Homo sapiens: one gene and its partner. The protein of the gene in region 2 purifies or fractionates together with the protein of the main gene of each other region. This does not show direct contact. Each region holds a gene or a part of one and is shown on either strand. Other genes may lie near its edges.

What was found.
Region 1: the proteins of RIMS2 (region 2) and RAPGEF4 purify together in Homo sapiens (affinity purification with western blotting; 2 studies listed by BioGRID). This does not show direct contact.

The regions. Positions count from the first base shown.
Region 1 is NC_000002.12:173,042,550-173,059,141, forward strand, and holds the end of RAPGEF4 (rap guanine nucleotide exchange factor 4), read left to right. Parts: intron 1-6,050; coding exon 6,051-6,105; intron 6,106-9,090; coding exon 9,091-9,218; 3' UTR 9,219-10,344; downstream 10,345-16,592.
Region 2 is NC_000008.11:103,500,067-103,517,109, reverse strand, and holds the start of RIMS2 (regulating synaptic membrane exocytosis protein 2), read right to left. Parts: upstream 16,501-17,043; 5' UTR 16,224-16,500; coding exon 16,048-16,223; intron 15,711-16,047; exon of another isoform or gene 15,422-15,710; intron 15,315-15,421; exon of another isoform or gene 15,200-15,314; intron 1-15,199. UniProt on the Homo sapiens protein: Rab effector involved in exocytosis. May act as scaffold protein. Plays a role in dendrite formation by melanocytes.

The DNA of each region.
Region 1 (16,592 bases), on a different chromosome or scaffold from region 2:
GTGGCAGAGGTTGCAGTGAGCCGAGATCGTGCCACTGCACTCCAACCTGGGCAATAGAGTAAGACTCCAAATCAAAAAAAAAAAGGGAAAGAAAATTGGATTAACCAAAATGTCCCAAAGCATTTTGCATAACTGAGACATTATAAAAGATGACTTTCCCTTAGCCTCTGTTCCTAACCAGACATTATTCTGTCCCCCCTCCTCCCTGTGGTGCTGTGTCTGTCCTCCAGTGTCCCTCCCTGAGTACATAGAGGTATACATGCTCTACACGTGCCTGGAAAGGCACCTGAACTGTCTTCTCCCATGGTCATCATATATACCACATACCGTAAGCATCATGCATGTGTTACACATGCGTATCTGCATGTCATACACCTCTTGGATACTAAAGATCTGTAGGGAGACCGGACTCAGGGCTCCTCCTCAATGATGCACACAGTGAAGGCTAGTTCAGCTTCAATTCCCTTTTATCTCTGGTCCTCACTGTGCCTGGCCATTTGGTTGCTATCACAGGCACAATCTTTGTTAGGTGAGACACTGTGTATTTCTGGATCTTGTGAAAAAAAAAATTCTTGTCCCAAATATGTGGAGGTCTGAGTGAAATAATCAAATGGTGTAAATGTGGTTTTACACATGCTAAGCAAGGAGTAATTAACAAAGGTCCTATATTTGATAGGCATAGGTCTGGAGACAGAATCAAATCGGTAGAGGCAGAAATGTAAGAAAAAGCAATCTGGCAAACATTAAGAGCAAGGATGGTACAGATCTTAAGGGGCAACAGAAGGAAGATCAAAACTGTTGAGGGCAGGCATTTAGAAGAGGCCTGACGGTGAGGAGCCGCTTCCTGAGGGATCTGAGCAGAGGCAGAATAATAGGCTAAGAGGAAGGCTATTGTGGCCGCTGTCTGGGAGCGGGAGGTCCTAGAGTGGTACCAATGAGGTGGCGTGGCCTGGAGGGCCTGCCGGTCAGAACTTGAAGAATGAAGTCTTCTCTTCCGCAGTGGGAGAGCAAAGGGGGAACTTGGACTAGGGCACAAGAGTCAGTGCAAGCTGGCTAGGAAGGTGGGGGCAGCCACAAAGTCCTGGTAGGCTATGTCATGTCTTTATAGGAGTGAAAGTGGAACTTGGCTGGCCTGCTCCTGAGGGGAGGACACCACAGAAGGGTGACGCCTGCCAAGAGCCAGGCCGCAAAGGCCCAGTCTGAGAACAAGGTACCTCTGACACCTCAGCGGACTCAAGGGAAATTCCCTGCATCAGAGCTTGAGGGAAATTTGTGTTTGGGATGCCGGCCTCAGAGCCTCTGGCTTGTGCCAGGCCGAGGTGCAGACAGTGGTCACCCCTTCCTCTGGATGCTGTCTTTGTACTGGTCACTCTGATGCAGGCTGACCCCTAAATTGGGGCTCAGCTGGAGAGAGTTCTTGGCTTTCCTAAGGAAGGAATTTAAGAGCGAGCTGACAATGAAAGACAGCAAGTTCATGAGAGGAACAGTATACAGGAAAACAAGTGCTCTGTAGACCGAGCAGCGCTGTCTTATAGGCAGGGTAGCACAGAGTAGCACTCACAGAGTGCTGGCCGGCTCTATTTATACCTACTCTAGTTACATGCTAACTAAGGAGCGGGTTTTTCACAAACTTTCTGGAAAAGGGGCCAGGAGTTCCTGGAACCATCTAAGGTAGCTTCCCGGTCATTGCCGTGGCATTTGTAAACTGTCATGGCGCCGGGGGGCGGGAGGGGGGGTGAGTATTGTCTTATGCAAATGCATTATAATTCCTAGTCCTAGCTGGTTTGGGCTGGTTTCTTTGCTACATCAGCAGGGTGGTGACCAAGGCTGGGAAAACAAATCCTGCTGATCTTCTACCTCCACTCTGCAACGCAGGCCCCAGGAAGGACATCTACTTCTGTGCCCCTCTGTTTTCAGCTCTAAAGAAAAATAGACGCGTGACATAGTCACAGAGTTCTTCACTCACCACATCATTTTTCCTTTCTGCACTTCCCTCCTCGAGTGCATGTCCTGAGGGGAATTCATCAGCTTTCAGTTGGGCCCATCTCTAAGCCCTGTAGGCCACGAACTGTAGGAACATATTCATTTTTGCACATAAGCTCCGAAGACCTGTACTTAGGATTAGTCCCAAGAAACATCAGTTTAAGCGTGGCGACAGGGGGGTTCAATTTGTTCCCCTACACGGATCCGGAGCGCCTTCTAAAGGAGGCGCTCTAATGTGGGGCATGTTTGCCCCACATTTACTCCTGAATTACCAGTTGCTGTCTTAATGAGCTATTTGCTCAAGGGAATGTGTCATAAACCTCAGGCTGGCTACTGGGGAAAAAAAGATGAGAATCTGTGCTTTGGAGTAATCAGACACTCCCCCACTCCGGCCTGGCGTTATAGAAAGTTGCCTGGCCAGCTCCAGGCAGGCCAACCTGCTCTGGCAGGACCATGAAGCGTAGGGTGTAATTTTTGGTTTCACCCCTGCTGCAGCAGTTGGATAATGAACCCTATATCTCTTTAACCTTTGTTTCTGCCAGGCTAGACTGCGAGCACCAATGAATAAACAGCTGTCTACCGTCAAAAATAACATAGGCTGAAGTTTGTGGAAAGATAGACTCTAACTAGATGGTTTTAGTTTTTAAAATCCTCCACTCTGGTCCAAGAAATCAACTGTACGTGCACAGAGCAGAAAGCTGCATCCACAGCAGCTCAGCAAAGGAGGCTGAGAGGTTTAATTCATGAATACTTCAACAGATGTCAGTGGCATGACTTCTTTTTAACTGTAGGCCCAGTATAGCATCATCTAGATCAAGGAAAGAAGAAAGATCATAATTTCTCTGCACTTTACAATTTGTTTAGTCTAGGGCACCATACTAGAGACGGTTTGGAAGAGAACCAAAACTGTCTTATGAAGAATTGTTGAAGAAATTGAGAATATTTAGGCTGAACAAGAAAAGATCTGGGGGTGTGAAGATATCCATAACAGTTATATCCAAGTATTTGAAGACTTGTCCTGTTAAAAAGAAATTAAACATGTTTGCTGTTGGGTCATTGCCGTGGCATTTGTAAACTGTCATGGTGCCCGTGGGAGTCTTATGCAAATGCATTATGAGCTCCAAGGATAAATGAGCGAAAAGTAAAAGGAGAAAGACTTTAACTCAAAATGATAAGTTTTAATAATCAGAGATGTCTAACAATGAAACAGGCTATTTTTGGAGGTAATGAGTTACTCATTGCTGGATGCATTCAAACAGTGGGAGAGCCACTGTTTATAGGCAGGCTGTAGAAAAAGCATTATGCACTCTGGAGATGGTTCAAGGAGGTGACTCCTGAAGTCTCTTTCAGCAACTCAGGAGAGTGCCTTGTAGTTGGGTGTAGTTGTCAGTAACTGCTTAATATTACATGTGTTAATGGGTGCAAAAGGAGGTGAAGTTAAAATATTAAGTTAACCCTTCTTTGGCCTTGTGAAAGCATTTGTAACTATGCATTGACCGGGAATGCTAGTTAGATTCACACATCATCACTGTGGGTTCACACCATTAAACATTATTGTCCGGACCTCACAAAGGAAAAGAATGGACCTCGCTGTGAAGCCAGATTTGGATTTCGAAGTTAAACTGAAGTTATCTTTGAGAACAATTAAAAAGGATACGTCAAAATTAAAACCATTGTTAAAATTAATCAAAGATTTAGAAAGGTAGAATGAACTTCAGGGCTGGAAATTACTGATTTAAACAATTGTTCTCACATTTTAAACTACATGAGCTAAAAATTATGAAGTCTCAGAGTATAGCTTTAAAGAGTAGCATAAAACCAAAGTCAGAATGAAATGTTTTAGCTTTCAAAACTAAAAAGCAGAACAATTACTCCCTACAAAATGGTATAGGAAGAGGTTTCTGACCCCTGCTAATTGTTTTATTATTCTTCAGAGGGGCATACTGGCAGCATTTCCCAGGGTTTTCGGTAATTACACTCCATTCAATATCTGAAGAATTACAATAATTCTACATGGAATATACTTGTGCCCTTCAGATGCAAAGCCTTTAGAGAAGTGAAAAAACAACTTAAAAGTAAATTAGCAGGGAAGTTATCATAGTTACTATTTATTTCACGGCTCCATATATCAAGGGCTAATTATACATTGTACGTTACATTTTCTGGGAGGGATTTGTGATATGTTTCTCATGCTGATCAACAGATGGATGTGTCAGTTTTCACGATCTTTGATGAAGTGAAGTTCTAACTTTTCCAATTGCCTCTTTGTGTGCGAAATTATCCAATGCAGGTACATGTCACTTCAGGCTTGCTAGAGTCCTCAAAGCAGTAGTATTCAGTGAGGTATTATGATGCTTGCAGATAATATATTTGTAAGGCCTTGACTCATCTATGATTTTTTTTTACACTATGTAAGCTTTCTCAAAGTCATTTTCTTATACTTTGGCAAGCCAAGGGTCCGTGAGAGAAGAAAGGGTTGACTAGAATTACATAGCTGCTCAGAGATCGGGGAGTCTCTTTCCCTGGGTGGAGCCTTATCAATTTTCTGCTAGTGTTGTAATTAATCTATTATCTCCACAGGACCCCCTTTAGAGCCTGAGCAGTAAAGTGTCCTGAAACATACATAGTGACCAGGAGTGCCAGCTATTGTTCAAATACCGTGACATTCTGGCTAAGAAATGGAGCGTAGGTCTCATCAGTGTTTTTCCCCAGGGGATAGGAGTCTCTGTTTCTGTCCATTTTCTTTTCTCTTTTCTTTTGTTTTTAATTGAGCTCAGCACAAAAGATTCCCTTTTAAGTCTTTATTGCAACCAAAACTTTACAAAGAAGTTAAGATGATCACTTAGTGACCAAATTTTAAAAGGTCAAATCAATTATAATCTGTCCATTTGGTTGAATACATGCTTTTTAAAAAATGTTTTAAAATGCAAATGGCATGGAAAATAGTCACAATGCAATGTGAAAAATTTCAAATCAAAATAAAATATGTATGTACTATATGAATTCAAATCTTTTAAAAACATGTTTTTATATATTTTTAAATATAAGAAGGCTATATGCCGAAATATTAACAAGATTACTCTGTGAAGTAATATTCTAAGTGATTTTTACTTTGCTCTTAACATTTTCTGTATTTTCTGAATTTCTTTTTTTTTTTTTCTTGAGACGGAGTCTCACTCTGTCGCCCAGGCTGGAGTGCAGTGGCGCGATCTCGGCTCACTGCAAGCTCCACCTCCCAGGTTCACGCCATTCTCCTGCCTCAGCCTCCCAAGTAGCTGGGACTACAGGCGCCTGCCACCACGCCCGGCTAATTTTTTGTATTTTTAGTAGAGAGGGGGTTTCACCGTGTTAGCCAGGATGGTCTCGATCTCCTGACCTCGTGATCCACCCGCCTCGGCCTCCCAAAGTGCTGGGATTACAGGCGTGAGCCACTGCACCTGGCCTGTTTTCTGAATTTCTAAGATGTGTATATGTTAGTGTTATAATCAGAAAGGAGGAAGAAGGGAGGGAAGGAGGGAATCAAATCATCAGGATTAACATTAAAATGCAAACTTTTGCTGGAAGATTAGAGAGGTCAGTAATACAGAGTGTGTAGCAAAAATGTGAAGGTAGAATATTTTGACTTGCTGTTCAGCCAATAAAATCTCATACCTCATTAGTGAGTCTTATTTACTGTGAGGAACTTGATAAGCTAACCCTTCTCCACATCTAGGATAGTTACAGATTCTCTTACAAATTCATGGCAACCTCAAGAAAGGATGGTGAAAAAGCACTAATGTACAGTCTCAGGCATGATAGATGTTTTTTACATCATGGGGAATATGCCAACAATTATGAGAGTTATGCCATTAATATTCCTTACCTGAAAATGCCTTGTATGTATGTGGGTACCCCTTTGAAATAATTAAACAAGTTATACATCAGCTAGTTGCCTTCAGATAGTCAACATCTCAGAACATGTCACTTCTCATGGTACCAAGTATTGCAGAAATGGTTTGTTTTCCTTTTTGGATTGTACTCTACGCTTACTTGAATTTCTATCTTTCTTTTTTCTATATTCCTTTTAGCGCATGATTGCAAATACGGCCAGAACAGTGAGATACTACAGGAGCCAACCCTTCAGTAAGTTAAGTGCTGCCACCTCTTACAATGTAGATGTTGGTGATTAAGGTCTTCTTAATGAGGCCATTGAGACACCCTTGGAGCCTGGGAAATATCTGACTGTGTCAGAGACACTTTGGACCATGAATTCCATGAGATAGGGGCCTTGAGTTTAAAGATTTTTTTTGCTGTTTTAAACTAGAACATATTTACATTGTTGTGAAACTAGAAAATCACCATAGGAATATTATTTTGTGAATGAATTTAAAGAGATTTAATTTGCTCTATCCAGTGCAGCTGGAGACAACTAAAGTACGACTGCCAACAAATCCTGCCTCAAACCAACTCTCTTTATGACTCATTGCTCCATGTTGAGAAACTCACATCAGCCCTTGATGACTCAGTTCAGTCAATTATAAACCAGGAAAGATAATATTTATTGTCTTTCAGGGTGTTGCAAGAATGCATTAATGTTTATAGCACATTCGTAAAAGGTCCAAAAACAGGATTTCATATTATATTTCTAGTATTCCCACATGAATTTGAGGTGCTCTTTTAAAATCTGAACATCTATCACAAGAACTGGTATAATACTTTAATATAAAAAAATTACTAATAATAAATAACAATTTTAGTCTGTTGGGAGTTAAGTTGCATCATAGCACCAGATGGTCATACTAGACCAGTGCTACTGTTTCTTCTGGGCTGGGACTTTGGTGGTGGGGGTGGAGCTTTGGCTCCCTCAATCTGGTCTGGAAATGAGAAGGTGAACACTAAAGGTTTTTGCTAAGCTCATTGTATGACTCACTTGAAGAAATTTATCTCATTAACTCAATATGATACTATGACATAGACATGAATCTGAGGCTACCAGTACCGTCTCCTCCAATAAACCGAGTGCTAAGAGACTATGATGTTCTTGTTTTATTAGTCAGAGTTGTTTGTTCTTCCTAGAGCAGGACTGGCTCATGGCCAGATTTGCTAACATGGGACACCAGAACTACTAAATGTTCATTTTTTAATGAATAGGGAGGAAAAATATAAGAAAAATGACATTGATTTGGGGAGCAACTGATTCAAATGACTGTGCCTTCTCTGACTTCCAAAATGTGAATAGTCTTGCAATATCATCAACTATTCTTATGTGGATTCAGCCAGAATTAAAGTGTCTCATGTGTTTTCATCTATTAATTTACGTTGTGTTTAAAGATGTGATCATAAAGCAGTTGTACAAGTGGAAACAAGAATAGATAAGTGACACCAGTTACAACCGGAGTTTATAATCCCAAATCCAGCAGCGGGGATAAAAGGGGACCCTGAAATTATATGCCAAATCGTGTGTGCCTGAGGGGGTTTATAGCCTTAAGAAGGTTTTCAGTGAGGCTCAAGAACCATAAAATAATATGCTTTGTTTTATGAGCTTCTTTGGAAGTAAATCTTGCATTCTTCTATGTCACCTCCTAGAGAAGCCAAGGGGAAAATGTATTTAAAAAGAAAAAACTCCACTGCATTTGTTGAAGTTATCAGTAACTGCTGGTAAACAACAGCTGCTCAGCTCTGAAGTCAACAATCTATAGATAAAGCTATAGGAATAGATTCACAAACACTGTGGGAATGTGTACAATGTAATTACAGTATATTGTACGTGTAGAGTACACTGCCAGTGAGAAGCAGAGGAAATTAAACACAATGTGCTCTGCAGTTCGCTGTGGTATTATTTCTATGTGATAATTATACTGATGAGTTTCTTCTCACAGGGGGCAGGGGCATGTATGTCTTCTCTCTGCTTTTCTGCCTTCAGACCTGCAACACTCCCCTTCACCCCTTGTGCAGATGGCATTCTAATTGTCTTTGGGAGTGCTGTGTGGATCTAGCAGGAGCAACCAGACTGCAGAAGGCAGTGTACTGTGGTGGAAACCCCGGTCAGGAGCCAGGGTCTGGCTCTGCCACTCCGGGTGTCCCCTTAGACCAGAGGCCCTACCCAGTGATGCTTGAAATGGAGGTGGCCCACAGAGGTGTTGGGTCTAAAGAGAGCATTTTTTTCCCTTTTATTTTGAAATAATGTCACCATTTTAAAATTGGGAGAATTCACGAAGAAGAAATCCAGATTTCCCATTTCTTAACAAAAAAAAAAAAAAAAAAGGAAGATCTGGCAACTCTAGGCACAGATTCCCCGTGGCAGCAACATGCAGAAGCCAGGTCATCACTTCCAGAGGGACCTGTGTTTCCAGTTCACCACCTTCTGGTCTGGCTTTCCTTATTCATGTATGTTCCCTGCGAGGGCTGAGTGCATTGGCTCATCATTCAGCCCTGATCTTCATTAAATTGGTTAACCTCAGTTGCTCACATGCTTGGGATGTGCATCAGAATAGAATGGTAGCTGAGTTTTCAGAGCAGATAGCATTAAAGAATCAAACGTCTAGCAGAAGTCATAACTTCAGCCTGTGAGTTGGGTTTTTTCTGAATATGGACAGTCTCTAAGAACATACAGTCGGTATAGTAATGCTGTATACTGTGTGCAAGTAAAGAGGGGAGTCAGGACTCTGTAGTCTCACTGGCTTGCTTCAGTTTGGCCCAGATGTTAAGCGCTTTTGTGAGGGGCTAATAAAAACTGTCTTTTGACATTAGTCTTCATCTGGATCAAAGGAGGCAGAGACACAGAGTGTGAGACACAGAGACCTCTGGAAAGGGAAACAATTTTAATCTATACCCAGGGGCTATCAGACACATGCTTCCCTTTTAATTTGGTGCCATTTTTTTTTTACAACGTGCAATTCAAAGGAGAATGATCAAAAGAGGTGATTCCAGGGAAGAAAAGAAAATTGGAGGGTAGGAAGGAGGAGATGGAACAACCAAGTGGAAACGTTTCAATGATTGTGGTGTGTTGAAAGGTCTTGAGGGAACCCAGGAACCTATGATAAATGTAATAAATAATTGGAGAAGTAAGATTGTATCTTATATACATATATTACACAATGCCAATTCTGCCCTTTCCTCTTTCAACAGATCCTGATGCAGCTCAAGCTAATAAGAACCATCAGGATGTCCGGAGTTATGTACGGCAATTAAATGTGATTGACAACCAGAGAACTTTATCACAGATGTCACACAGATTAGAGCCTCGTCGACCATAGACATTTCAAATGCCCAAAGCAACAGTTTGTCTCCAGTCCACAATCTTTCAAAAATGCCATTTATGCTACTACTGACTGTATTGCCACTAGAGAATTCTACAAAACAAGCAAAAACACATCCTGAGACACCTCAGGGCTGCATTCAGCTTACCAGCTACCTAGCAAGAGAAGGAATTATTTGACATGCCTAAAGCTTACACACTCTAGCTTAGGAATCCCCAGTTTGTGGCTACCCTGTTTCATTTCCACTTGTGCCATCTTCTTTGCTGAAGTGTTGAATAAGGCCCACGTGAAGAGTTTGGTAGAAATAGCCTTGTCAAGAGAACTAGCAAGCCCCTGACATTTTTTTCTAAGAGTGTTTATGGGATGAGATGTGCTACAAATGGGATAGATTTGGATAAAATTTTAACTCAACATCTTGATTTGGAGCCTGGGGTTTCGGGAAGGTGTTGAGGAATCTATAGAAGTCCAAATTATAGGTTGTATTCTTCCATCTTCATTGTCTTACCTCTGAAGGAATAGAACCTGACCACATTATTATGAAACATTATGGCTGTTTATGTAATTTAGGGAGGACTGGTCTGTAATTTCTGAATGTATATAGAATAATATTTATGTTTACAATGTAACTTTTCAAAATTTACAAATCAGGATTATATACATAAGAATTCCACTAAGAAATGCCAAGATTCTTAAATTTGCCAGCGTTAAAGTAGAAAATAACATTTCAGAAGAGCACAATATGCATAAAACATTTTTCAAAATTGAAATATTTTCCTGGGCATTAAAAACCTTTACTATTGGCTACAAATTTATTGTACCTGATGAAAACATATTTTCTGGACTTAAATGTTATTACAAATATCTTAATTTTCAGTAATTGTTTTGCACTTTCAAAGATTGTAAATAGTTCATTCAATCAATGGTATGGAGTTATTTATTTGCTACATAATAGATACTGTGCCAAATAATTACTTTTTATTTATTTTATTTAGTACGTAATTTTGAAGTACATTTTTTCCTGTTTTCACAATTAGACTACATTTAATGTGTAGGAATTGTATGTATGTATATCTTCTGTAAATAACATCTAGTATCTTCACTAAATATAATTGTCGACAAGAAATGGTTGTGTTCATCTCAATTCCTATAATATGAAAGGGGTAACCATTTGGTATGGTGGGGTGTTGGATCTTTTAATGACACAAAATACACATATTATAAAATTCATTCTTTTAAAGTGCAGAATCCAGTGATTTTTAGTATATTTACAAAGTTGTATAGATAACCATCATCACTATCTAACTTCAGAACATTCTCCTCATCCCTAAAAGAAACTCTGAACTCATTAGCAGTCACTTCTTCTTCTCCTCTCCCTCCAACCTCTGGCAACCACGAATCTGCTTTCTTTGTCTTCAGATTTACTCTGGATGTTTCATATGAGTGGAATCATACAGTATGAGGCCTTTTGCGTCTGGTTTCTTTCACTTAGCATAATGTTTTCAAGGTTGACCATATTATAGCTTGTACCAGTACTTCATTTATTTTTATGGCCATGTAATATTCCATTCTATAAATAGACTACATTTTGTTTATCCATTTATCAGTTGACAGACATTTGTCTGTTGTGTTCACTTTTCGGCAATTAGGAGCATTGCTGCTCTGAAGGGGCACTGGATTTTAGAGCTCCCTTGTGTGGGGCCTCATGCCATTTCTCAGTGATTTAAGTACTTAGCAAATATTTGATGAAGAGATATCCAAAATTCTTTAAATTCCAGACATGCCTCTATTTTTTTTAATAAGTCAGCATTTTCCAGAGTGTGTTCCAGCCTATTCTAGTCTCACAAGTTCACATATTGTCCCTCCAAAAACAAACACACACATACAAAGCCAAAAACAAAACCAAGATTCTATCTTCAAATAAATGTGGGGACCACTGCATAATATACCCCATTCATAGAAATGATTCCCAGTATTCACTCACACTGAAGGCTCTGAGAAGTCCTATTGTAATCCCTTTTAACATCCCACAATTAAAGTCCACTTTCAGAAATGCCAAAGCAGGCAAATGCCTCTCTGTGTTCATTCATATAAAATTTCAGGGTCCCCAGAACCAGAGGCGGTGTTTTCTGCGGTATTACACCTGCCTCTGGAGGCAAGTGCAGTGTCTGGGATTTACTAGACAATAAAAGAAGGTCACTGAATAAATTTTCTTGAAATCATTATCGTTCAGTATTTCACTATCTGATAGACCTCAATGTCAGCTGCAAAGGTTCCACTTTTATATATTTTCCTTTAGATATCCTTTATAGTTTCTTTTCTAGATAATTTACAAAGATGATGAACGAAGCTGGGAGCCCGTTCCTGGGGCATCCTTGCTCTTGTTTTGCTTGTCTTTATTCCTACTTTACTGAAAGCTAGCATTCTATATACAGCAGCACTTCTCCCCAATTCCATGGTGAATGCCAACTTACGATCTTATTTTAATATAGTTTCAACATTATTCAAAATTAATACATATTCCCCATGTATGTTCCCCTTGTTCTTCCACATGAGAATAACTTACTGTACTTAATAAAGATAAGACATTTTTAAGTATTTCTAGCTTCTTTGAAAATGCATCAAACTCCATTCTTGAAGGTAGCAGTGGTAAAATAATAGAATTCGCACTCTAAAAATGTAGAGTAGTAGCCAAGCAACCCTTCCTGAGGCAGGAGATGCAGTTAATACTTTAAAACTTGCAAACAAGCCAAAAGAAAATGAGATGCCTACAGGGTCACAAGAAGGATAATGAGGTTTGCTGGAAGATGTGAAAAAGAAGAATGTTTTTACCAAAAGCGCCTGTAGAAAATTATACATTTGAGTGTTTAACATACCTATTTAGCAAGGTCACTGGCATAGTTTATGGGAGCTAAGCTCTTCCGGCAATTTTTGAATACCATGCAGGTTAAATATACTCCTCCTGAATTCAGTGGCATTTCCTCTGAAGGTATGAATGCAGATCAATGACTACCAGTGTGAGAAAATTAAACAGAGTGTCATTTTAGTTTCAAATTGTGCTCCGAATAATAATAAAAAAAGCCTGGAATATGCAGTGTGGTAAAATGAACCCCTACCTCGAATAGCTTTCCTTTTACTGTCAATCTAGAATGCATTACATCTCTTGCTTTAGAGTAATCTTAATCTGTCCTACATTGAAAATTGTGGTATTAGATGAACAGTTACCTTATCCCTTACTTCTAAACTGGAAAAAAGCCTTTAACTTAGGTATTGTTAGTCACTTTTCTATTCATTCATTCATTCATTTTCATTCATAGAAAATAATGACTGAAGTGCTTACTGAGTGCCCTCTGTGGACACAGAATTCAATGGTGAGGACAACTAGAGAAGGTCCCTGTTCAGGTAACCAAAAAATGATGTGAACAAATAAATAGAAAAATGCTTCCTGCTGGGCGCAGTGGCTCACGCCTGTAATCCCAGCACTTTGGGAGGCCGAGGCGAGTGGATCATGAGGTCAAGAGATCAAGACCATTCAAGAGATGTGGTGAAACCCCGTCTCTACCAGAAATACAAAAATTAGCTGGGCATGGTGGTGCACGCCTGTAGTCCCAGCTACTTGGGAGGCTGAGGCAGGAGAATCACTTGAACCTGGGAGGTGGAGGTTGCAGTGAGCCGAGGTCACGCCATTGCACTCCAGCCTGGCAACAGAGTGAGACTCTGTCTCAAAAAAAAAAAAAAAAAAAAAAGAATGCTTCCAAGGAAGGATATGGTGTTGCAAGAGCATGTAATAAGGGAATTTAACCTGATCGGAGGCAAGGAAGTGTTCCCTGTGAAAGTGACAGTTGAGCTGAGCTCTGAAGGATGTGAGTGCTGGCTAAGACAGAGGAGGAGAATGTGTTCTAAGCAGAAAGTAACATTGGCAATAAGGGACAGCAAGCTCACTGTGGCTAATGGAGATCGAAGGAGACAGCATTTCCAGATGTGCTGGAGAGCTAAGAAGGGCTCAGAGCATGTAAGGCCTATGCAGACCTTTGAGTAGGAAGTCATTGAAGAGCTTGAGGCAGGGCGTTGCATTTCCAATGGTGAGCCCTTGAACGGCAGGGCCACTGCTTTCTGTGTACCACACTGCCCAGGACACTTGGTAAGGGCCATCCCTAATTCCTTAGTTACTTTATTATGAAGGCTTAAAGGTAGAGCAGAGGGAGCTGTGGAGAATGCAAGCATTCAAAAGCAGTAGTGGACCCAGACACCCATACAGACAAACATCATCCCTTCTCCTGACTAAGTCCACACTGGGCCACTTTTTAATTTTTTATTGTGGTAAAAGATATACAACATACAATTTACCACTTAAAGCCTTTTTGAGCAAATAATTCAGTGGCATTTAGTACATTCACCTTGTCGTACAGCCGTTGCTGCTATCTATCTCCAAAACTTTTTCAACATTCCAAACTGAAATTCTGTGCCCATCAAACATTAACTCCCCATTTTTCCTTTCCTCCAGCCCTTGGTAACCACTATTCTTTTATCTCTATGAATTTGCCTTTTTTGGGACTTCATATAGGTGGAATCATACAATATTTGTCCTTTGTGTCTGGGTTGTTTCACTCAGCTTAATGTTTTCAAGGTTCATCCAAATTGTAGCATGTACCAGAATTTCCTTCCTTTTTAAGGCTGAATAGAATTCCATTTTATGTCGATTCTACATTTTGTTTGTCCATTCACCTGTTCAAGTCCCAACTTCTCAATACTTTGGGGTATATACTAAGAAGTAGGATTGCTGAATCGTATAGCAATTCCGTTTAATTTTTTTAGGAACTGCCATACTGTCTTCTACAGTGGCTGTACCATTTAATGGGCTACATTGGACATAGCTCGTAATTACCTGCATCATCTCCGAAGCTGCCAATGTATGGCACAGCTGTTGAGAGAAGGAGTGGGCAGGGGACCCAGGGCTCAGTGTGTGGGTATCCAAGCAAGGAGCAGGGAGGCTTCATTTGCCAGTGTCCCATCTGTCAAGCCAGGGCAGCTCATGAGACAATCACAGCCCCAGAACCTCTGTCCATCCTTGCTGCCCTGTGGGTTGATGCACCACACTCCTGCTGCCTGTGGTCTTACACTGCAGGATGGGAGGAGTGAAGGGAATGTTTCTAACCCCCAGAGAATAAGGGCGTGGGAATGGGAAATGTGGTCGCTTTGCTCGGGCTCCTTTGCATGTGCTTTTCAGGCAGCTAGGGAAGGTCAAGGATGCTGCTACAGGAAGCCAGGATCTTTGTTCCTGGGACAATTCAACCTTGGAAGGATTGGGGCCAAAGCCCTGCTCTAAAGGGAAGTAAACACAAGGCACTATGGGCTCATGGGCTCTGACATTTCCCTCCAGATTTGAGGAAGAAAGAGAGCCTAGAGCCAGGGCATGTGAGAGCCGCCTGATTCCATCCCAGTCTTCTTCCTGCATCCTCCTCTGGGAGGGTTCTGACTCTTCCTAGCCAGAGAAAACTCAGGAAGAGTGGAATTCTACAATAGGAGGACCAGTACAAGAGAAACATGAGAGCAAAAGTTGGTGTAAACCTCTTCAGAACAGGTTTTTGCAGCACCTGAGACAAAAAGAGGACTGGAAAAGCTGCATCAGGTCTCCATCTATTTCCTTAGCCAGAGACAGGTGGCAAAAGTCTCCAGGTGATAACATCAAGGACCTGTCAGGAATGGAGGAGAATCGACGATTTCAGGAAGGAGTCCTGACACTTTAGGACAGAGGGACAGACTGATGATTCAGTCTCCCCAGCAGGGAGAAGCGCTTGAGGTAAGGAGACACAGAAGCTCTTGGGGAACGTGTTCTGCACTAGCCAAGCTGTGGTAACTTTAGAAGAATAAAGAAAGAGGTTGTTCAGTGATATCAGTGAGTTTATCAATTGCTGTGTGTATTCGGGTTATCCAGAGAAATAGAACCAATAGAATGAGCTTTAAGGGAGATTATAAAGGATTGGCTTACATGATTATGCAGACTGGCAAGTCCAAAATGCACCATGTGGACTGGCAGCCTGGAGACCCAGGAAAGCTGATGGTGCAGTTCCAGTTTGAAGGCCGGCAAGTGGAGACCCAGGAAGGCTGGTGGTGCAGATAAAGTCCAAAGGCAGAGTCTGCTGGAGCATTTTCTCTTGCTGATGGAGGCCAGTCATTTTGTTCTATTCAGGTGCCTTTAATGGATTAGATGAGACCCGTCTGCATTATGGAGAGCAGTCTGCTTTAGCCACAGCTCACCAATTTAAATGTTAATCTCATCTAAAAACACCCTCCAACTTGACAAAATTAGCCATCACACTGTATAATAAACCACTCCAAATTTTAGTGACTTAAAACCACAAGCTTTCAATCAACAACCATGAACCATGAGTTGATGGGTTAACTGGACAGTTCTGCCATCTGAGCCAGACTTAGCAGATCAGGGCTGGACTCAGGCATGCATTTGTGGTCAGCTGGTCTAGGATGGCCTCAGAAGGAATGACTTGTCTCTGTTCCATATAGTCTCTCACTCTCCAACCAGCTATCCTGGGTTTCATCACTTGTTGGCTGGGAAGTGTTCCCAGGAAGCAAGAGGACAAGCAAGAGCTCTGGAGGCCCAGGTCAGAACTGGTGCTCCAAGAAGACACTATGACTTCTGCAGCACTTTGCTGACCAAAGTGGTCAAGAGGATAGCCAAGAGTCAAAGAGTGGAGAAACAATTCTCTTTCTTGATGTCTGGCACAACCAAGTCATATCATCAAAGTTGTGAATATAAGGAGGGGAAAGCTGTTGCCATTTTCACAAACCATCTACTAGAGTGAGGGTAGCACATAAGGGGAGTGGCTGGAAGGTCCACTGTTCTTGTTTAGGGAGAGCTTTTCAGGCGTGGTGCAGCCAGCTGTTGAAAGTGCTTCTCCAGGGTGACTCTATTAGCTCTTGGGGAAGCAGCAGGACCAGCAGAAAGATAACCAGCTTGAAGATCAGGTAGACCTGGGTTTGACTCAATCAGGGCCACCTCCAGTATAGACAGCAACTTTGTGTGTATTAGGCAAGAGTCAACCCTTCTCTCCATTGGTACTGCCTCACAGAGAGCTCCTCCTCAACCAGGCTTCCTGTTGTGTGTGCCGTGGCCTACACTGTTGTAATGTGATAGCCCTCAGCTGTGAACTTTGGTATTTTATCTCTTTGAGCTTCATTTTCTACATCTGGCAATGGGAATGACAACGCCTGCCTCACAAAAGCTGGGGGGAGTCCTAAATGAGTGAAGGTGTAGAAAGTGTCTGGCATACTGAGTGCTTGGTGCTCAAGAAATATTAGTGCCTTTCCTGCCTCTCTGCTATAATGAGAGGCCACAGAAAGAGGTGCTTTAGAACA
Region 2 (17,043 bases):
CACTAAATTATAAGCACCTCAAGGGCAGAGACTGTGTCCTATTCCTCTCTGTTTCCTAAATTAGTACAGTGGCTGGTATAGAACAGATGCTCAAAATGCATTTGTTTAAAGGAAGAACAAATAAATACTTAAATCAAAAACAATCATTATCTTTGATTCCCTATACTGTATTGCTGGAAATTTTTAGATGCAGACTTAAACATGTATAAGGGGATATCCATTTTTTAAATTCTTTTAGAGAGTAGAGTGTATATGGCTTTGTAGAAGCAGCGCCATGTAGTACCTCTCCCCGACCTTCCCATTGGATCATCTCAGGTAGTCCAATTATTACTTTTGTCCCAATTGGGTTATTATTACTGAAGTTCTTTGTCTAATATACACATGTAAAACATTTATTTTTAATTTTCCCTTGTTTCTACATTTTTCCAGCACATAAAGTATGTAGGAATACTACATTGCAACAATAGCAACATCTAGTATTAGATGTCCCACATAGGATATAAATTATTTTGTCAATCTTTTTATTGTTTGTATTTCCTTCTTTTCTTCCATCTTTCATTCTGGCCCTCTTTATTTCTTTCTTATTGGCTTTTAATGTTAACAATTACCAAGAGAGTCATTCGTGACAGAATTTCATAGTGGATTGTTTTAATTTTAGAAATAAAAAATAATGTAACATAATTTAATTAAATAAGTTCAGTAAAGGGACTGCAGACTTTTTTGAAAATATAAGTATGAGTACAAGTATGAAATTTTTGAAATTTTAGTTATTGAAGTAAATAATTATTTCAGCAATATAATACATTTCTCAAATTTTGGTTCCTGTACTCCTATAATTCTTCTCTTTCTCAAACTAAATGTCCTATTTGTATAAAGAAGTTAGCACATAAAGCTATGGGGCCAATAAACAATGCCTGCACCTTGCCACAAAGCAAGATTTTAACTTTTTAAAATGTCTGCAAGTTTAAAATAACAAAGCATAATACAGAACCTCTCATTTAGAAGTCTACATAGAAACTGCCAACTGCCAACACTATATTTGAAATCGATGAACCAAAAAGAAAAAAAGACAAAGAACATGTGTCACTTTCAATGATATTAGTAAGTGTATAGATGGCACATGAGAGGATATAGAGACAACACTAATCAAAATTACTAACTAAAGTTTTCACTGCAGATTAATGAATCTATAGTCAGCAAACAGTATTAAGTTAATAACTGACACTATAGCCACTAAAGAGGAAAAACTAAAAAGATATTTGTCCTGCAAAGATGTACCAAAAACAAAATATATTCAAATTGGTAAATTAAGATTTTGAAACACTAATATTTATAAAATATTATAGAAATATTGTATAAATTTGCGATGACAAGTAGAAAAGTTCTATAATCAGAGTTCATTCTGAAAAATCTGAAATTCAAGTAATATTTTATTTCCAGAGCTCTTGAATATAAATTTTGCCTTTAGATATGAATTCCACATTAAATGTTATCAAAATGAAAAATCTAATCAATTCCAAGCTGCTTCAATCCCAATTACTGTTGGCTTTACACAAAGAAACGAGATCAGAATATTGTTCTCTGTTGTTCCATACCTAAGTTTGTTGTCTATGAAAGGAAAAGCTTGTATTCTGAAGTTTATGGGTTAAAAATATCATTGAAATTGTAAGTGATTCTCACTGTACAGATCTGTTGAAAGGTAGTTATTGACTTCAAAAAATGGCTTAACTGAGTTTAGAACATCTGAACGAACTTAATAAAAAATTTTCATAAACTGTGTGAAAGTATATTAATGAATATGACAAAGTTTATAGATTCAAAGCAACAGTTTAGCTCCAGAATAGTGAGGTTAAAGTGATAGTCAAATGTTACAATATGAGTCCTAAAGAAAAATTAAGATGAGCAGAGCATTATATATGCTTGTGGAATACCAACATTATTTTTAAATATTTGATATTGTTTTTAAAGTTCAAATGGATTAGAATACCATTCTCATTATCAGAGGAAATTTCAACATTATAATTGTCACTGAAAGAAAAGGACATGAGTTAAAGGATATTACTAGCTTTGAAGTAAAATTTAAAGAGGATGAATTTTCAAAATTCTAATAGCATAAAAGCAGTTTCCATCAATCAGAAAAAAATGAAGTTTTTTGTTTTGTGTGTGTTTTTTTTTGTTTTTTTGTTTTTTTGTTGTTGTTGTTGTTGTTTTTGAGACAGAGTCTTGCCCTGTTGCCCAGGCTGAAGTGCAGTGGCGCCATCTCAGCTCACTGCAACCTCCACCTCCCGGGTTCAAGCAATTATCCTGCCTCAGCCTTCCAAGTAGCTGGGATTACAGGCACATGCCAGAAAATGAAGTTCTTCTCTGCAATTTTCTACCAACTACTTTAAGAGTTTCTCGTCAATGGTGACCAACAGGAATTTGAAAAGATAATCATTAAACAACCTTGGAATAATGTGTTTCTGTCCAAAGATAAATAAATAAACCTGATATTAAAAAGATATGCTCATAGAAGCTGGCTAAGTGTCTCATTGTAGATATTGAAAAAAATTTAAAGTTTTCATAACTCAACATTTGCTATCTTCCATAATACCTTGCCTTTTGTTTTGCTTAGAATTTTGTAACTTAAGATGTGATTAATTTTTTTACCAACTTTCATGTAGATGCCCCCAATCTTTCCCAGTTTATCTCAATATGACATACACCTCCTTTATTGTTTTCTACATGTGGAATCACGTGAAAAAGGTTAGGAAGCATTAAGTTAAAGTAAATTAACTATTCAGCCAAAATATACAGTGGGAAGGGAGAAGAAAAGTCTAAAAGATGGTAAATGAAGAGAGGACAAATCATGAAGGACCTAGTTTGACATGCTAAGAATTTTACACTTTTTCTAGCCTTTGTCAGCTAGAGGTCTGGAAGAGAGGTAAGCTCTAATGTTCTAAGTCATCCATTGTATGTAACACATTAATTTATTTCTTATGCTTCTAGAATGGTACTATTTATGTATCCATCCCTGGTAGAAGAAAAGAATTACTTACTATTTTGTATGTTCCATGGTTCAGAGAAGGAATCCAGTTAAAGGCTGCATGTAGCTGGCAATAGGGAAACACTGATACGTTAAACAAAAGAGTTATATAATCAGATATTTTATGTGTAACGCTCTTTCTGGAAAGAGTAAAATTTAAATTGTTTTAAATCAAAATTCAAATGACCTGGGATCAATAAAGACCCCAATATTGATCTATGTAAAATCCTACAAGTAGCAAAATCTAATTTTCAATTTTTCCTTTAAATATTATTTTAAATAGCTGGTGATAATGGTCACATCAACAGCCACTATGATTACAATAATTAACATATTACAGCAATTTACAGCTCACAGGCACTTTCATTTATATAGCATCACTTTACTCCTATGATAAAGATACCACACACCCATACTTCCTTAACCACAATTCCCAAATCCAAAAAGCTCTGAAAACAAAAATTATTTTTGTGTAAGTCTGGGCCAAAATTCCTGGCCTGACTATATGTAGTCCTTATTTAACCCTTTTGTAAATATTCATATGTTTCACGAGAGAAATATCAATGTTTGATTAGGGGCTACTGTCCTAACCCTGCTAAGAGTTACATATCTTATAGTATATACACCTTTACATTTTTAAAGTCTAAAATACTTGAATTCCAAAACATCTGCCACCATGAGTTTCAGTTACAGAATTGTGGACTTGTGTTTTCAATCTTCATTTTATAGAATGCAGGAAGTTAACTAACTTCTTCAAGATAGCACAGCTTATAAATGATGGAGCCAGGACTATTATCCAAATATCTAAATCTCGTTTTCTATCCCCTATCCAAGACTAACCATAAATGGGAAAAAAATCCTATAGAGGCATATAGAGGCATTTCATATTACATGTACCTGTAATTCCCTGGCCCAGCTCACCCAGAGCACTTGCCGACTGCAGGCAGCCTCCAAGCCCATACATTCTGGGTTCATCCTGGGAAATCCAGTTCAAGGACTATGCATACATCCAGGAATGACATGACCTGGACAGCAGCCCTGCCACTTTCTATATCTTATAAGAATTAGTTAACACAACATTTTAAAAATGCAAAATTTCAAAATAAAAGTCTATTTGTACCTAACCTTCAAAAAAAAATTTCCTGCTGATTTAGTTTATCAGCTTCACTATGTTACACAAATGACTAAGCTCATTGTCTAGTTTGAGTTCACTGGTTCAGAAGTAAAAAGCATCATCAATTTGTATGTTGATACTATTTTTCACTAAAATTTATTCTTTAAAAAGTAGAAAGCAAATAAGACAAAATTGTAAAGCGGGAACTACAATTATCCTAAGGATTGCCCACTTTTCTAATGCCAATTCTATCAATCCTGTGATAGTTATATTTTTCAACAAATTCTCCTGGTTCTCCCTCTATACATGATAGGATTGTCCTTCTCTACCCTGAGTTAGGTAGGCATGATCATGAAATTTGCTTTGGCCAACAAAATGCAAGCAGAAGTTGTATGCATACCTCTGAGAGGAAATTTTAAGAGACAACTTAGGATTCACTGCAGCCTCCCTTTTCAGCTGCTCAGAATGTTCCAGAAAGCATTTTCTCCACTAACCTGTGTCCCAGGATGAGGATGACATGGAGTAGAGACCCAAAGAGATCCAGAGAAACATATAACGCCAAAAAGAAATAAACCTTTGTTGTTTTAAGATACGAATATTGGGGATAACATAGCCTACTATAAATTTACTGCCTCTCAGCTCCAAATCCACCCTTCTTTGACCTGCTTTGTGATAGTGAATCTGGACTGTCACCATTTCTCCTTTGCAGTTGGCAAAATGTTAAACTTTGTCACTAGAGGGAGCCATAGTGACATTAAAGGAAGAAAGGACTTCAAGGTTCTGGGTGTTTCGTTGTTCTTGCTACAGTGCATGGTTGCCAGTAGCTTATAGACACCCAGTGTTACTCAACCTCTTAGCAAGTTTCAGTGGCACCCCAGCAGACAGTTTCTCAAGAAGTCTCACTGGCACCCCAAGAGGTGGCTTCCCAATAAGTTTCCTAAGCACCTCAGCCAGCTTCTCTGCAAGTCCCACCAACGTTCCCACAGATGATGTCCTGCTTGCCTGCCACAGCCTGAGACAGCTCAGTGAGCCACAATCACATCCTCCAATGAGGGCTGAATCTCAGCCTCAGACACACAGGAAGGGCTTCTCTGAAATTTGTTTCTGTCATAGGTACTCTACCTTACCCCTAGAAGAAGGCTGCTCCTTGCTATGAGTAGTAATACTTTATATCAAAATGTCCCTGTTCAAATTACTATTATAGTTTCTATCAAGACTGGACTCTGATATCTAGTCTATCCTAACATACTGTCAACTGCAACATAAATTTATATTAGTAGTTTTAAAGAAAAATCTTGGATTACTTTCTTTTTCTACTTTATTTCATAGCTACTTTTAATCTTTACATGCCTAAGTTAAACAACTGATTATATCCTAAACCCTGTCATGAAGTTTAATCATAACATACACTACTGTGCATCTTTTCATTAAACCAGACTCTAGGGTAAAAAATTACAAAAAAGTAATATATGAAGGCACACTTATGTAGAGTATGGATATTCAACCAAACATGCCAAAAGAAACTACTTCTTGTGGAAATATTAAATTCAAATATTTACTTATTCATACTGGAATATAAAGTTATGCTGAGTCTTTTAACATGACCATTGGATAATGAAAATACTGCATATGAAAATATTTCAATGACTCTTCACTATGTTAGTCATATGGTAAAATTATTTACTCCTCTCCCTATAAAAATAAATACAATTATTAACTAACATGACTACTGCTTAGGAATAGTACTTAATCTTTACGTACAGGGCACAGAACAATTCACACTTCTTGCCCCCAGTCCCTCCACCTAAAACCCAGTTACACAAACATTTTAACTCTGGAGGAAACTGTTAAATAAATAAAAAGTGGAATGCAGATTGGCGGCACTTTGAAGGCAATATAGTATTATAAACTATAGTACAACATATATAGTAAAATATTATTTCAGAGATATTCTGGAATTTGTATCTCTGAATACAAAATACTTTTTAAAAAATAAGAATAGTTCAGTATCTACTTTATAAAAAAATATATATCCAAATTTATATCTACTGGCACTCTTTAGAGGAATGTCATAAGGAGAATAAATGGCCCCCCAAAGATGTTCTGTCCTAATTGCAGGAACACATAAATATGTTTCCTTATATGGCAAAAAGAACTCTACAGATATGATTAAAATAAGAAGATTATTCCGGAATATCTGGGTGAATTCAAGCTAATCACATGAGTTCTTAAAAGAGAAAAAATCTTTCCTAGTCGTGGGCAGAGAGAGATGCAATGACAGAAGAAAGGTCAGAGAGACGGCATCGCAATAAAGATTCAAAATGCCCCACTGCTTGTTCAGAGATATAGCAAGTTATGTGCAAGTACCAGAAAGAGGCCTCTAGGAGGTAAGAACAGCCCTCAGCTGAATAGCCAACAAGAATCTCGGTCCTATAACTTAAAGAACGTAATTCTTTCAACAACCCAAATGAGCAAGGAAACAATCCTCCTTTAGTTTCTAGAAAGAAATGCGGCCCTACCTACACCTAGATTTTGGCCCAGTGAGAAAAATAAGTGTGCTAATAGAAGTATTAATTAATTCTTTCAGATTGAAGACTGTTTTATGTGTGATAAAACAGATTTTCATCTATGTGCCTGGGAAGCAAACTATTATAAAAATGATAACAGATACCAAATATGCCAACAAAACAAGATGAATGTGAGCACCACCTCCATCTGTCAACTGAACAATACCAAAGCACCAAACACCATTGTGGTTATTCTGCTACCCAGTTATATTGTTTAGTGTATCCTTTTCCCCTAGTTTTAGCCTCCCAGAAGCCTAGTTACAGGATACAAGAAACTACCAAACTATTTGTCTCTTCGAGCTGAACATAAGCTTGATTGGAAGAAAAAAATGCTAAAGGGCATTCCTCCTGTGCCTTAAAGGAGCATTTATCCAGTTCCTCTGTTTAGCAGAACCTATCAAAGTATTTGTATTATATAAAAATACTAAATGTTTATAACCATGTAACTATACAAAAGTTGTTAATTCCAAATGCCTTAAAAAGCATTTAGCTAGCACTATATTGTACAAAAAGTAAGAGTTTTGACAGGTATATATAATATAGATATGTGTTCATAATATATAAACTGTATTAAAGTTGTTAGTTCTTGACCAATTAATTTATACTATCTAGTTGTCTTCAATTTTGTAGGTTACCCGTATTAGAAAGAAAGTAGGTAAAATAATATATTACTCCTGTGTAAACCTTTTCTTAACTTTCCCCTTTCCATAACTCTACCTCAATTCCTATTTCTGGAGCTTCCCATCACAAAACCCAATAAAATTTATCTCCCTTTTATAATACAAGCACTTTCTGAAATTCTGCAATAATTCAGTAAGCTAATATAAAGATGCACAGAATCTTCACCAACTTCCACATGTCATTTCCATAACTAATCTCCTCTCTATATTTTCCTAAAATACACTCATATTTCCAAAATTCCCTTAGAGGTGATACAGAAATATATACAGGGAAGGAAATTTGTCCTTGCTAAGCCTAACATATAAAACAAAGATTGTGTGATAGTTTAAAATACACAAAGAATGAAATAAAACCAGAGGGTGAGAAATTCATTGAGACTAAGTTATCAATGGGAGTAGGGAATATTCAGTAAAAGGATGATAGTCCTGAAGTTCTGAAAAGATTACATGGTGTGAATATACCCAGTAGAAAAAATTTTATAAGCTATTAAGAAGGGTTCCTTCTAATTATGAATGGATTCCAAGAGCCCTAATCTTACTTTCTCCCCTTTGTTCTTTGTCCTTTCTTTTCTTCTTTGTCCCTTTTGGTCCTTTTTACTACCATCCCATTATACCAAGTTATAGTCACTTCTATTACTCATATTAATGCTACAAACTCTCTAGAATAACTAAAACAATAAAATAAGCCACTTCACAACTGCTCCCTCAAGAGAACACTGGTCCTAGGACCAGATGACTTCACAGAGCTAACTATAAGTGAGATAAGCAGATACAGGCAGATATATATTATGTACAGTAGTCAGTTACGCAAGTCTGGCATCATAAGAGTTTACCTGACCCTTAACACACAGCTGTCAAATCCTGGCAATTTTGGCTCCTCAATTTTTCAAAAATTTGTCTTGACTCTCCACCTCCACCTCTACTGCCTTATTTCATGTCTTCATCATTTATTACCTGGATTACTGTAAGAATCTCCTAAATAGTGCCTTTATCTCTAGTATTACACCTTCTAACCAATCTATTAAATGAGAGTGGTTTTTGTTCCAACAGAAGTCTAATTATATTGTGTCACTGCTTAAAATCCCTCCATGACTCCCTATTGCCAAATCCAAAGAATAGCATAGAAGGCTTTTTAGGCTCTGAACCTTGCCATCTCTCCAGTCTCCTCTATTGACGCATCACCATTTAAATCTGTGCTCTTCTGAACCACTTCAAGCAAACTTCTTGACCATGTCCTGCATCGTCTTCTTTTTTTTTTTTTTTTTTAACAAATGAAAGGTTTTGGGGGCAAAGAGGAATTGGGAGTTTTAAGATTTTTGCTTAGAGAACAATCTGCCCAGCTAACATCTACTCATCATTTGAGATTCAGCCTAGATGGCATCTTCCCAGGACTGAATCACGTGCTCCTCTTGTAAAATATATCCATGATACACTGTAGTGCACAGTAGTCTCCTGGTACTTACCATGCAAAATTTTCATGTGGTTTATCACGTTTCTTACAATGAGCTCCTTAAGAATTACCTGATAATGGTTAAAATTATTTCAACTCCCAGAGATATCTGTATTTCATTAGGTGACTAGAGAATACAAAAGTTTTTAATATCTAGCAGTGAAACTTTCAGATATTTTAACAGGAAAAACTATGTGACACCATGTAATATAACACAATATAATCAAACAATACCATAGAGGCAATAAACTACTAGTAAGATTAGTCTGACATATTTTTTACCATGGTTATAATGTACTAAAAACACCTTTACAGTATTTTTTCATGACACTTTACATTTTTATGTGTTCATATGATTATGGTTGGCCTTAGATTATCTGTCCCTGGAGGGCATGAACTATTTCTATCCAAAGCCTTCTGTGTACTCTTTATCACTCATCTGTGCTAAACACAATGGAAATGTATCAATTCTCTTAAAGGATCACTTTTACAGCCAAATTTTCCCTAATTCCTAATATTCCTTAAATTTAAAAATGATATCTATCACAATGTTCTTCTAGTTTCTAGTCAAAAAAGATATGCTCTTAGTCCAAAAGAAAGATAAGCTGCAATCATACACAAACACTGTAAGTTTCCTTCCATGTAAAATAAGCAAAATTAGGCATGTTTAAAAATTACATTTGATTTCAAAAATAAGGACACTACTACATAAGCAAATCTTTTTTTAAGATTATTGGAGTTCACCTTGAAAGTTTGTACCACCTAGATGAACATAATATTTCATTCCCAATGTGCGTTCATTCACCCGATTAATATTTTTGAGTACTACTATGTGTAAGGCATTGTATTACATTAGAAGTTGAAGCTGCATTAGTGAACAAAACAGACATGGTGTGTGCTCTCTTTGAGTTGATAATCTAGCAGAGTGGACAGACCATAAACAAGTAAATAAATCATTATAAATTTTGATAAGCATAATTGGGGAAATATAAAAGGTATTGTTATAAAGAATAATGGAGAGAATCTACATAAGAAAGAGTGGTCAGAAAAGAGCTCTCTAAAGATCCAAATTTGAAGCTAAGCCAGAAGGATGAGAAACCGGCAATCATACAAAGCTTAAGTGTATTTGAGGGGCGATGTGAAGATCAGCATTCTAAGCTCAATAACCATACTTCAGAATTAGCTTAACCTAATACGGTTCTCTGGGTTCTTAGATACAATGTGAATAAGACAAATAGGTAAATATAGATTTTAGTTAAATAATAGAGTAAAAAGTTTAACCAAGGCAAATCTAAAGTCAATTACAAAGTAGTTTCCACAAGTAAGTCCCCTCAATTCACCTTTGACTATCAGTATCTTGCCGATTACCAATAACTTGATGTCAGTGCTATTTTCACTGCTATGTCTTAGTTATCAGGCTCCTTAAGAATGGTATTTGCTGAGGAAACTATTTTCAAGTTGTCACCCACCCTCTCCCCATCCCTAGTCTTCTAAACAAATAATGAAGTCGCTTAAAAGCCCTCCTGGCATATTTTGACTTCATAATAGACAAGGAAAAGAATCTCTCAATTTTTAGAAAATAAGAAAATTTCACCCAGCAATCCTATGATAAGGTTTAAAGAGTGCTATCTATGTCAGTTAACAATAATGATTATTTATTGCACCACTACTTATGCCAGGATACTTAGTCTATAACAATCACAATCCTTCAAAATAGGTGTTATTACTCAAATAGTATAGATGAGGAAACTCAGAGTTTAATAATAACAATCACAATCCTTCAAAATAGGTGTTATTACTCAAATAGTATAGATGAGGAAACTCAGAGTTTAATAATATAAGCAAAACGTTACCATTATTAATTAGTAAAGTAAGGTGTCAAGTCAAAGTTCATCTGGTTTATCACACTTGCTTCCACTATCTCTTTCTTCATCGCACAATATAATTAGTTCTTTATCAAAATCTATTGTCAAGAGGAAGATATTATTTAATTGCCCTTATTTCAAAATAGAATATATATAAATTTATTGGGTACTCTTTCATAAAATATAAGTCAATTTTTTGTTTGCTTGTTTTCTTATAAAATGTCAATCAATTTTTTAGAATGCATTTTGAATCCTTAAAAACTATAGTTTTTCATTTTTTTGGCAATGGCAACAGTGGTTTACATATGCAATTTTTATTTAAAAGTATTCATGATTCAATTGGTACTTTTTAAAAATACTAGAATAGGGAAGATCATTCTAAGAAGATCACAAACTCAAAATCCATAAAACAAAACTACAATAAATTCAATTTTTTTAAATCGTGACCAGTAAAAAAGGCATAAACAAGGTCCTAAAACAAATAACATGTAAGAGAGCCTCCACAAATCACTAAAAATTACTAATAGAAAAGGGAATACAAATGGCTGTAACCAAATTTTTTTAAAAAGGCTCTCAATCTTTCTGACAAGAAAATTGCAAATAAGTCTACAGTGGCATCTTTTTCATTGAAACATTGGTAAAGATTGCCATACACTGAGTTGGCGAGGATGTGGGAAAGTCCCCTTAGTACACACCACTTATACACACTTCCTCTACAAAAGTAAATTTCACAATATTTATTAAATTTAAAATATACTAACCCTTTGGCCCAACAACTTTGTTTCTAGGAATCTGTCTCAAATATACATTCATACATGTAGGAAATGCATGTACGAAGATATTTATCACAGATAATACTGTGATAAATACTAAAAATTTCTAATGACAAAATACTTAGAAAAAAACTTAAATACCCACAAATATGGTACTAGTTAAAGAAATTACAGAATATTCATTAAAAGGGATAGTATATATCCTATATCCATTAAGGTTAACGAGGCAGCTATACAGTCACAGATGTGGAACTGACCTCTTATAAAGCAAACTGCAGGACACATTTCTGTTTTTACGTTTACATCCATCCATACATACATGTATGAGCACACACATACACACATATACAGACACACACAATATTATATATACACATGTATTTATTCTTATGCATAGACTGTCTCTAGAAGAGTATACAATATAAAATATACTAGTAACAGTAGTTGGCTCTGGGTAGGGGAAATAGGTAGCTAAGAAATTTGGGGGCTGCGGGTTGCTCACACCTGTAATCCCAACACTTTGAGAGGCCAAGGCAGGAGGATCACTTGAGCCCAGGAGTTCAAGACCAGCCTGGGCAACATAGGGAGACCTCATCTCTACAAGAATAAAAAATAAATTAGTCGAGTGTCATGACACCTGCCTGTGGTCCCAGTTACTCCAGAGGCTGAGGTGAGAGAATCGCTTGAGCCCAGGAGGTCGTGGCTGCAGTGAGCCGTTATTTCGCCATCTCACTCCAGCCTGGGCCTCAAACCAAGAAAGACCCTATCTCAAAAAAAAAAAAAAAAAAAGAAAGAAAGAAAAGAAAAGAAAGAAAAAAAAAGATTTTATTTCAAAATTTTATAAATTAACTTTAGAAAATACTTTTAAAATTGAATTATTTTAAAAAATAGAGAACTGCTCACTATATATGTGCTAAATATATACTAATTGTTATCCTAACCTATCAGGAAAATTTTTACTTATTGCCTTCCTTTATTTGGGAAGCAAATTAACCCTTTAACAGAAAATCTAAACTATGAATGAAAATATACACATCAAGAAACACATAATTTCTAATTTGTGTTACAAAAAGCTTATCTGAAAGGCTATGATATGTACATATTAGAAACTCAGTATTTACTGAATACTTTTCTATTGATTTAGTGGGTTTGCTTTCCTCAGACATTTTTTCACAATTACACAAAAACCCACTGGAAATTCAACTTTTAATAAATTATGTTTTTCTTTCAAACAATGATTCCTCATTGTCCCACAAAATTGATAAGCTACCTCATTAACATTACCACAATTTAAATAAACACAATTTATTAAGTACTTATTACGTGCAGGTGTTAAGGATGCTGCAAAACACAAACTCAAAAAAAGGGTAAATTTTGATTCTTGCCCTCAAGAAGTTTACAATCTTGAAAGACAAGACTTAAAAACATTAATCATTCAGATGTCTTGGAAGATTGAAAAAAAAACATTAGTCAGTAAAAGGACATTATAAATTTTACTGATAAATTGAATTAGCCAAATTTAAACTGCTACAGCAATACATGAAAGGATTCTTTAAAGTAATTACTGATTAGGGTTCTACTGAGATTTTTAAATGCTTCCAAAATTATAGTACCTCGCTCATATGTAAAATGGTATTATTTGATGATGATAGACTTCCTATGTGGATGTTCAGCTGGACTTTGAGGAAATTACTAATAATTAGGAATAGCTTTTAATTATTCAGGCTCCTAAGGTGAGAGATAACAGTAATGGTCTCAGTTTTGATCACTCAGTTCTCTTATTAAAAATATCTCAAGCATGAATCTTTCACTACATGCATATTTAAAATTATATGCATCTAGGTATTGTCATCTATATATTAAATATTAATAAGGTTCAAATTCCTTCTTTCTCTCCACTTTGCATGAATACTTAATATGAACATTGAAACTCACAGATCATGCAAAAATATTTTTATCTAACCATTGCAGTATCTTCACACATCAAATGTATTTTTTAACATAAATGTTAAAAGGCAGCAGACATGCATTTAAATTTCAGTTTATTTTTCTCTCTACTCTTAAAATACATGTTAATTTTCAATGTAATGAACAGCACTAAAAAGAAACAAAGGATAGTAATGACTAGGTAAGCGAACCCTAAAACTTCATGGGAAATAGTAACCATTGAAGACCGTTAGTATTATTTTTCTTATGTATTTGTAATTTAATACCCAATATTGATAATGTATTATTTAGTAAACTGTCAAAATCTTCAAAATGATTTGTCTCTCATTACTATAATTCCATTATAAAGTCTATTCATTTCATTTCCTTGCCTACTCTTTCGTTAAAAAAAAATTAAGAACATTTAAAACCAAATGTCCAAATATATTATGCTTTAACCTCCAAATAACTTTTTGTTAAAATAAATATAACAAGAATGTGAAACCATGAAAGCCATTTTGAGGTAAGACTCCTTTCTAAGACTAAGTTAGGTAGCAATGCAAACAAATATTTAAAATAAATCTGAATATATATTTTTCATCAATGTAATTTTATAGATTGTATGAATATGTATTTAGAGAACATTTGTTTCTATCTAAACTATGGAAATATGAATATGTAAATATTATATGTATTGAATAGTATGTAGGTTTACATACAGAAATAATATATACATATGTAGCTACCTGAAAAACCCTTTTACAACATCTTCCTAACATACTGTTCATTTTGAATAATCCTAATACTTAAAGTCCACTTAAATTTCTATATTAAAACAACAAATAAACTTAGAACTACAGTGAACTAGCCACATAGTATTTCTACTATGAAGAAATAAAAACACATTTTACATTTAAATAGGTAAGTCAAAAAAATAAAACTACATTTTACTGGAGCATCATTTTGGCCGCACTGATTTTTATCAATTATAGTAAAAGGCATTAAGTTCACATATTTAAATATCAAACTGCAAGTCATCAAAAGCTTGGCATTGTTAGTATACAAAAAAAAAGTTAAGCACAGTAAGAAGTATGCTCAAAAAGCTTCTAAAAATAATGCTTTATTCTTCTATTAGTTAGAGTAAACTGCTTAAGTCTCTTAATTTCTTCATATCTGAAGGCTGTTAATAAATAACATTCCCAAATAAGTATTCAACGCCAGAAATTAGCTTTCATGAAGACATTCTTAATTTCAGTTATTTCAGGAACATATTTGCTCTTTTAGCCACTCAATATTTTGTGAGAAATAGTATCTTTCTCTAAGATTTGTGAATATTTGATGTTTGCTACTATAAATTATTTAAAGTGGTATTTTTCATTAAAATATGAAAATATATACCTATTGACAATGAAACCTGTTTCTTTATTAGTACATGAAAGACTACTAAATTCAACAACCTGCTTTTAAAATGTACCTGAATAGAGGTGAGTGTATTAGTTCCTTCACAGAGGAACTCTACACTTTCAATTGTATATTTCTGTGGAGAATATGGGAAACGTATACTTGACAAAACGCAAAAGAATCATCTGAATAACTCATTTCAAGTAAAAAGAAAAAAGCCAAGCTGGAAAAACATAAAAAGGTTACACATCTTCTGAATAACCTCTTTCACAAAGTAACTGAGAAATCAAATAACCATAAAACATTCAAAAGCAAACCTTGTAGAAACAAATCTCTTTGCTACGCTAACCAGAAAAGTAGTCTCAGAGCTAAAGATAACCCTGTCTGGACAGTTCCCTGGTGCTGAAGTTCCAGAGCCGGTAAACGCATGCCTGGGTGCTGCTTTCACTCCTACCACCCTCAGAAAAACCCGGCCTGCCAAGACCGTGAGCAAGAATAGTAGAACTTCACAAGGTAGGGAGCATCCCAAACTGCAGTGATGGTAGGAACTGGAGTCTCTTCAGGATTAAACAGATTTACTAGTTGCAAACAGGAAGAGCAGCAGAGTGCAGGGTGTTAGCACTCGCCGAGGGGGAGGGGCTGGAAGATGGCGGCGGACGCACACCCACCCGACCGCGACAGAGCTTAGGCCCCTAGCCCGCGCCGCCGCCCGCTGCTCGCAGCCACTGTGGGCAGCCCTGCTCTGTCCCGCGTTGCTGGTAGAGCCGCCCCGCGGAGGCGTGGGACCAGGGTGGCGTCCGCATCCCCTGCCAGCGCGCCTTCGCCCGGGTCCGTCCAGGGAGCACCTGTGCACGGCCATATTGGATTCTGTGCCCCAGTCACTGCCTCAGCGCGGCGGGAAAGGAGAGGGTACGCACAGAGCCTGGGTTCAGCCCCAGTCCCGCTGGGGCCCCGGAGCCAAGATGACCAGCGAGGAAATCCGGAAAGGCGCCAAGGAAAATCACACCGCCTAAGGCTCGCCACCCTCACCTCAGCCGGCCTTGGCGCCCTCCCTCCCCGACACACACCCCTGCTCTCAGACACCCCTAAAACAGCCCGGGCGGCCGGCGCTGGCCGCAGCCCTCGTGGCCTGGGCGCCGCCAGCGGGAGGGAGGGCGGCGAACTGGGGCGCGCAGGCGGCCGCAGGGCAGTGGGCGAGGGGGCGGAGGGCAGGGAGAGAGGCGGGAATATGGAGCCAGGTCCTTACTTGAGCACGGACTGCTCCTTCTCCTCTTCTTTCTTCTGCCTATCCATGACGGCCAGGATGATTTTCCTCTCCTCCTCCGTGAGGTGGCTGAGGTCAGGCATCTCGGGCTGCAGAGGCGGCTGAGAGGCCGCCGGGATGGGAGCCAGGCGGCCCCGGGGCCCGACAGGAGCCGACATGTTTGGTGGAGCCGAACCACCCTAGGGAAGCGGGGAGGCAACTCCACTGGCAGCGGCGGCACCGGCGCGGCGGCTGGGGCAGCCTCCAGCGCTGGGACAAATACATACAAATCAATGGCCTTCAATCCAAGGCGACAGCCCCCCTCCCCCAAGAAAAGCAGGGGGAGGGGAGGGCGAGCGCGTGGGGAAGGAGGGCTGAGGAGTGCGCTTCGGGAAATGTTTCTTCTTCCCGGGGGCGAAGGGCTGTGAAGTGAGCGGTTCAAGGGAAAGGGGAACTGGAGGCCGGGACGCGGAGTGCGCGGAGAGGCGGGGGAGGGTGGTGGAGTAAGGTGGCGGGGACAGCTAAGGGTGGGGTGACTGGAGGGAGCAGGCGGGAGGGCGACAGGCGGACCGGGGCGCGAGTGTGTCCGGCCGCGGTCAGGGCCGGGAGCGCGCGCGCCGCCTCGGAGGGGAAGGGGTGCCTGCGAACAAGCCCCCGGGGAACTCGCTTCGAGCGCCCGGAGGCGGAGTACTGCCGGCCCGAGGGGCACCCAGGCGGGAGCCGAGAGGGTCGTGAGGAAGCGAGGACGGTTTCCCGGAGAAGCAACTCATCCGTCCCGCCGGCTGACGCATCACAGGGCTCCCGCGCGCCACAGAGGGAGAACTCCTCCAGGCACACCCGGGAGCGGGCCGCGGGGCCGGAAACCCCCGCGGAGACCCCAACCCCACCCACCCCACCCCCGGCTAGAGTGGAGAAGCGAAAGCGGAGAAGATATGACGGGGGCTAGCGGCGGAGAGTCCCGGGGCCAGGGCCCTTCGGCTGCCAACGCCCGGATCCAGG